Regions from separate parts of the Homo sapiens genome. Here region 2 is linked to region 1. Evidence: fine-mapped QTL for protein levels in blood plasma. A gene starts in region 1. The other region holds a variant in brackets. All regions are shown on one strand. Distances are from middle to middle.

Region 1 (2,906 bases):
GCTGTTCGTCTGGGCCACCAACTCACACAGCCGCCGCCCAGCGCCTCGGCACGCGTGCTCATCTTGTGTAAAAGTAAAAGTTGCTCATGTCATTAGCTCGGCTCTGAGTTTGCATGAGAAACCAGCGCAGCTCTCGAGCCACGGGAGAAAACACGATCTGCTGCGGAGCCCAGTGACCTGAAACTGTAGCAGTGACTCGAGACCTGTCCTCTCCTCGACGTCGCCCTATAACCCTCCCGCTTTATTTAGGATCCGCTTTTCCGAGAGCAGCCACTCAGGCAACCCCCGGAAGGTTTGTTAGGAGTTTCTCCTTGAAACGCTTTCCGATTCCATCTTTTGAAATCCAGCAGGCGAGAGTCACGACAGACTCCAGGACCTCTTGAGCGCTGTCCGCAGCCCCACGGTAGGAGTAGCCCTAGTGCACGAGACTTGGCGGTGGCTGAAAAGCTCGCCCAAACGCACGCACCACCTCTCTGCGGGGTTGCGGATTGCGGGTTGCGGTCTTTGTCCGCTCGCCCTTCCTCCGGGGCCGCACACTCCCGCATCTGGCCGGCAGGTGGCGCGGTTGGCTCACGATGAGCTGCGGCCGGGGCTGGAGAGGCTCCTCCACCTCCCAGCGGCCGCCCGGCCGCCGGGACCCAGGCTCCCCAGGAAAACTCGGCCCTGCTCTGGAGGGAGTCAGAGGAGGGGCGGCCTGGGAAGGGGAAGGGAGGCCTCATTGCTAGGAATCAGTGCCCCTGCCAGCGCCTGGGGAAATGCACCGAGTGGCGTTGGGGACCGGTCCCTGGGACACCGGCTGCGCTGCCTTCGCCGGACCGCTCTTAGGTGGCCGCGTCCACGGCTCGGGCATCGGGAAAAGACCACAGCCCGATGGTGCCAGTGCCCCCGGGGCCGGAGCAGCCGGGCGGGGCTCTGCGGGTCCTCCTGCTCGCCGTCTTCTCCCGGGGCAGGGAGGGCTGCCCCGGCTAGGTCGGAGCGGAGAGTCGCAGCAGCCGCTCCGGGCAGCTTCCCAGTCCCGGTCTGCCTTGTCTGTGCGGCTGCAAGTCCCCGCACCCACACTTAAGCCTTTCACTTCTACCCCACCGCTCCCAGACGGGCTAGGCCCGGTTCCAGGGACTGCCCCCAACCCTGCCCCCGGGAAATCCACAACTGGTTCCCTGCCCAAGGCCATCTCGGGGCGTCCTGGGCCCTGGGCGAGGTCCACGGCGTGTGCAGGGGGACGGGGCCAGCGGGGACTTCCTTACTGCTAGAAAGTCATTCGTTCAGTCTCTGGAGACAGTGACGGAGCCCTGCTGCGGACTGGACGTTGGGGACCAAGTAGGTCCCCGCTCTCCAGGCATCTGGGGAGCCAGGGAAGAAGCGAGTGATAGAGCCACAAAACTCCCCGCAAAGAGTATTTCAGAGGGGGAAGCGCCATAAAGACAAAACAGGGCAAGGTGGCAGAGGGTGGCGGTGGCAGGCGCGAGTCTGCAGCTCAGCCCGGGCGCGCTGGACGCAGACACGTCGACTCTCCTAAAGAAGCAACCGCAGGTCAGCTTAGACTTCTTTTATTTCAATAAAAGAGCGTTTTCCTCCATCTTAAACCGCCCGTGGTGGGAGAAAAGGTTTCCAACCTCTTCTCTGGCTCCCCTCGGTCAATTCCGAGCTTTTCCAAAGTCCCTCCGCCGTCCAGGGGCTCGACCTTCGAGGTAACGTGGGGGATCCCGCTGGCTCCCTCCGGCAGGCGGGGGCGGGGACCGGCCGTGCTCGCCCCCTAGAGCCCCGGGAGACCGCGCGCCCCGTGGAGCCCGGAGGGGGCGGAACCCTGGGGCGGGCCCTGCTCGGTGAAGGCGGGGCTCGGCCGCCCTGTCTGCGCCGCCATTGGCCGCGGGCCCCGGACTGGCGGGCTCACGTCACCGGCCGGGCCCGCCCCCTTGGCAATGTCTTCAGCCCGCTGCTCTCCTAACTTAAGCATTTATTCCACTGGGATAGAAGCGGCAGGAGCAGCGTTGGCACCGGCGAACCATGGCTGGGATTTTCTATTTCGCCCTATTTTCGTGTCTCTTCGGGATTTGCGACGCTGTCACAGGTTCCAGGGTATACCCCGCGAATGAAGGTAAGAGCGGGACGGCCTTTCTGTGGTCGGGGACAGCGAGGGGCCATCGCGGGTGAGGGGTCCTCAGGAGCGCAGGGCCAGGTGGTGCGGGGGGAGCCCAGTGTGAATGGTGCGTCCCGATTCGGGAGAAGGGGGCTGAGGCGAGGGGATCGGCGAAGGGGCAGCGGGGAACCGCCGGACAGCCTGCCCCGAGGCGGTGACCCGTGCACGCGGCGGGTCTGTCCAAGTTTGTAACCAAAGGCCAAAGTTTATCAGCATCCGCCAGAGAGGCCCGCTCGAGGCGCCCTGAGGGGATGCACGGGAGACAACGCCGGGATTTAAAAAAAAAATTACAAGAACCACGTCCTCTCCTGAGCCAGCCCGGGGCGAGGGGAAAACGCAGCCTGGAGCACAGTGAAGGCTTGGTGCTCCCGGATTCTAGCGAAAGCCTTTCGAGCTCTGGTTTCTGCAAAGTTTCCCGAGCCCTGCGCTTCTCGGGACCGGGCTGCGGGGCCTGCTCCGCAGCGCAGCGGTCGTGGCGCCGCTCGTCAGGCGCCAGTGACCTGATTTCTAGCACCCGGAGTCAGACACCTTTCTCCTCGCCAAGCCCAGCGCCCCGAGGGTGCGATTGCGGGCCTGAGGGGCCCGAGCTCTTCGCCCCGCAGACTTGGGGAACCCGCCGGCAAGTTGAACGCAGTCGAGTTTTAGCTTTTCGCCCCAGAATTGCACACAGTTTAGAGCTAACGTGCGGGGTCGACGGGACCCGTCTGGGTGCTCAGTTTTCTGTGCATCCGTTCGGACGTGCTGGGAGGATTGTATGTGCCTGTGTGTC
Region 2 (2,906 bases), 150 kb after region 1:
ATGCAATTCATATACTTTTGGAGATGAACGTAGATATGTGTGTCAGCTTTGAGATGGTGTGTCCTGGATTAATACTTTGTCTCCCAATATCACAGAAAAATACATGCCAGTGACTCTTGAGGTTAAGGTAGTTGGGATGAAATGGCCTCAGGCAATTTCACATTCCCTAATTACCTGGAAAGTTCTACAGTAATTAATATGCAGCTAACTCCTGTTGCCCTCACAAGAGCATCAGCCTTCTAGAATCGGAGCTCCGGAGTGTGAAGATTCAGTATTGATATGATATGTATACCAAACTCCAGCCAACTTACTGCCATTTTTCATAATCTGAGTGGCTGCCTTGCTTATCCTAAGCTGTGGTTGCAGAAACCGTGGCCATTTATATAAGCTATAACATCAAATCAGGGAAAAATGAGGAAAAAAAATAGATTCTGAACCATTTATTGTTGAATAAGTAGAGAAAATCATCAATAAATATTTATTACATTCTGACAGGGTGTGTGGCATTGTGTTCTATGCCAGAGTGACAAAGTTGATTCACCCCTTTTTGGGGACCTTAATATATTTTTTAAGGGATGTGCCTATGCATTGATGCCTGAAAAATATGTATAAAGAAATGAGGTTGACTCTTCTGAGCAGTTCATCTTTTCCAGAGGTAAGGGTAGGAGGCCAACTTCAGGGTCTGGGTCTGAGCCCGTGGGCAAGCCCTGGCCGAGTGAGCTCCAATGCTAACTCATGTGCCGATCTCTAGAGCAGTGGGAAACTACCCCGCTGCACCAAATCAAGTAGCTTCACCTTGTGTATGCAGGCCCCAAGTTATTTTTTAGCAATCTTACGAGTGAAATGTTCTGGTGGGTTGAAAAACGTTCTTATTTTAAAGAAAGGTTGTGCTCGCTACACTGCTGGTGTGTGCATTCTGAGACCTCTTGTATTCAATCTGTGAAGGATATGTGTATTAATCCGTACACCCGTATAGCCTCAATATTTGTCTGAAGACACTTAAATTCTGACCCATAAAGGAAAGTTCTAGAAGCAATATTTTCACTTATTTAACATTCTCCAAACAACATCAAGCATTGATACACACTGAAGAGTGCGTTTATTTTTTGTATCACTCTAAGTATGTTGGAATATGCAAGGACTGTGGTTCAAATTAGAATGTATAAGGCATATTATAATTTAGTTCATACTGAA[T/A]AAGAAATTAACAGAACATTGTTCGGTTCACACGTTCCAAACTTTGAGTGATTTCTGGAGTTAGACATAGATTTTCTATTTTGTTTTAATTTGTCAAGGTATTTTTCTTCCCTTCATGAACTTTAGGTACACATAACTTATGTCATTTATTTATGGTCTTTTATACCTAGTTTGTAAAATTGTAAAATAGCAAACTAAATGCAAAGAGTTTGCATTTGAAAATAATAAAGTAGTTGCCGTATACAACCCTGCAATCTGGTTGTCTCTTTCAATAACTTTTGCTATATATATGGTGTGCCTAAATGAATTAATTATTTGTTGTCATTTAATTAAAACAAAAAATCTTAAATTCCAACTGAGCATACTTAGAGGTTAAAAAATTATTATCTTCTAAAGATTCTTCACCCTTCAGAACAATGCATTTGAAAAATCTGACTTAGACCATCGTAATTAAGACTGTAGACTATGGTTGGCATTCAGGCTTCACCACTTACTAATTATACAGTCTAGGGCAAGTCTCTTAACTTCTCTCTGCCCATTTCCTTGCTTGTAGGATAATTACAATGCAAGAGCTTTAAAAAGATTAAATATATTGAAACATTTAGCACAGTGTATAACATCCAGCCAGAACTCAACAAATGGTGGTGATACTCAGTAGCTTTTTTGATGATATAAACTTTCTTCTTCAATACCCCCAGTTCCCTCTCTTACATCCTTGTCACTGATCCAAGCAACCAGCTACCCATCCTTGCCAGGTGCTTTCAACCTAGGATCCACGGATCCTCGAGGGTACATTGGTGCTCCAGCAGGTCCAACAGCATCCCTAAAACTGAACAAATGTCAGTTATTACATTTGTATATGTGTTTTGATGGGGAGGTTTGCAAAATTTCATCAAATTCTAAATTGCTATGGGATATAAAAATATTAAGGATCACTGTTTTAAAGCTGAATGATCTCCTCGTGATGCTATTTCATTAAATTATCAATTGGCAAAGTCCCTATTGATTGAACATCAGATTTAAGTTTTATTTTAGTATCTCAGCTAAAGCCCCTAAGAACAGCTGGCTTCAGAGGGCAGGGGTGTGCCTTTAGTGTTACCGGCAACATTGTAAAACATGGGTCTTGTCTGGTTACTTTGTGTTTATGCCTTACTTAAGCTGCTCTCTAGTGTCAACTATATTAATATGTATGGTAGTTGGCAGCATATTTGTGATTCGAAAGGGATTAGGTTTGGCATTTTCTCCCTCACTTGTTTAGCAAGAGAGAATGTCAACCCACAAAGCATTTTTCCCTAAATGTTCTAAAATGAGCTGGTAGGGTGGTATCAAAATTGCCACTTGTAATTTTTAAATATACTATTATTATTTTTTTTTTTTTTGAGATGGAGTCTCGCTCTCTGGCCCAGGCTGGAGTGCACTGGCATGATCTCAGCTCACTGCAACCTCCACCTCCCGGGTCCAAGCTATTCTCCTGCCTCAGCCTCCCAAGTAGCTGGAACTATAGGCGCATACCACCACGCCCAGCTAATTTTTGTATTTTTAGTAGAGACAGGGTCTCGCCACATTGGCCAGGCTGTTCTTAAGCTCCTGACCTCAGGTGATCCACCCACCTCAGCTTCCCAAAGTGCTGGGATTACAGGCATGAGCTGCCACACCCCGCCTAAATGTACAAATGTAAGGAGTACAAGTGCAGTTTTGTTACATAGATACAT

Which allele goes with the higher level. Alleles are on the strand shown, and positions count from the first base shown. The strength of an association depends on the size of the effect and on how common the allele is.
As copies of T replace A in region 2, the plasma level of the protein whose gene starts at base 1,949 in region 1 goes down (moderate association).

The links. PIP is the chance, under the fine-mapping model, that this variant and not a neighbour inherited with it causes the effect. The UK Biobank Pharma Proteomics Project read protein levels with antibody pairs (Olink). The fine-mapping took linkage between variants from a reference panel, not from the people measured, so its PIPs are less certain.
Region 2: its variant is fine-mapped to the plasma level of the EPHA4 protein (UK Biobank, PIP above 0.99).

What each region holds. Positions count from the first base shown.
Region 1 is chr2:221,571,347-221,574,252 of GRCh38, reverse strand. EPHA4 (EPH receptor A4) reads left to right here and starts at 1,949. Exons shown (of 18, transcript NM_004438.5): 1 at 1,949-2,095. The coding sequence starts at 2,005. RefSeq lists silencers at 484-643, 694-973, 1,574-1,993.
Region 2 is chr2:221,416,569-221,419,474 of GRCh38, reverse strand. It overlaps EPHA4 (EPH receptor A4), which reads left to right. Exons shown (of 18, transcript NM_004438.5): 18 at 1-1,448. Among named protein-coding and RNA genes, the nearest start is that of EPHA4, 150 kb to the left of the region's middle. The variant T/A (reference allele first, on the strand shown) is at 1,195.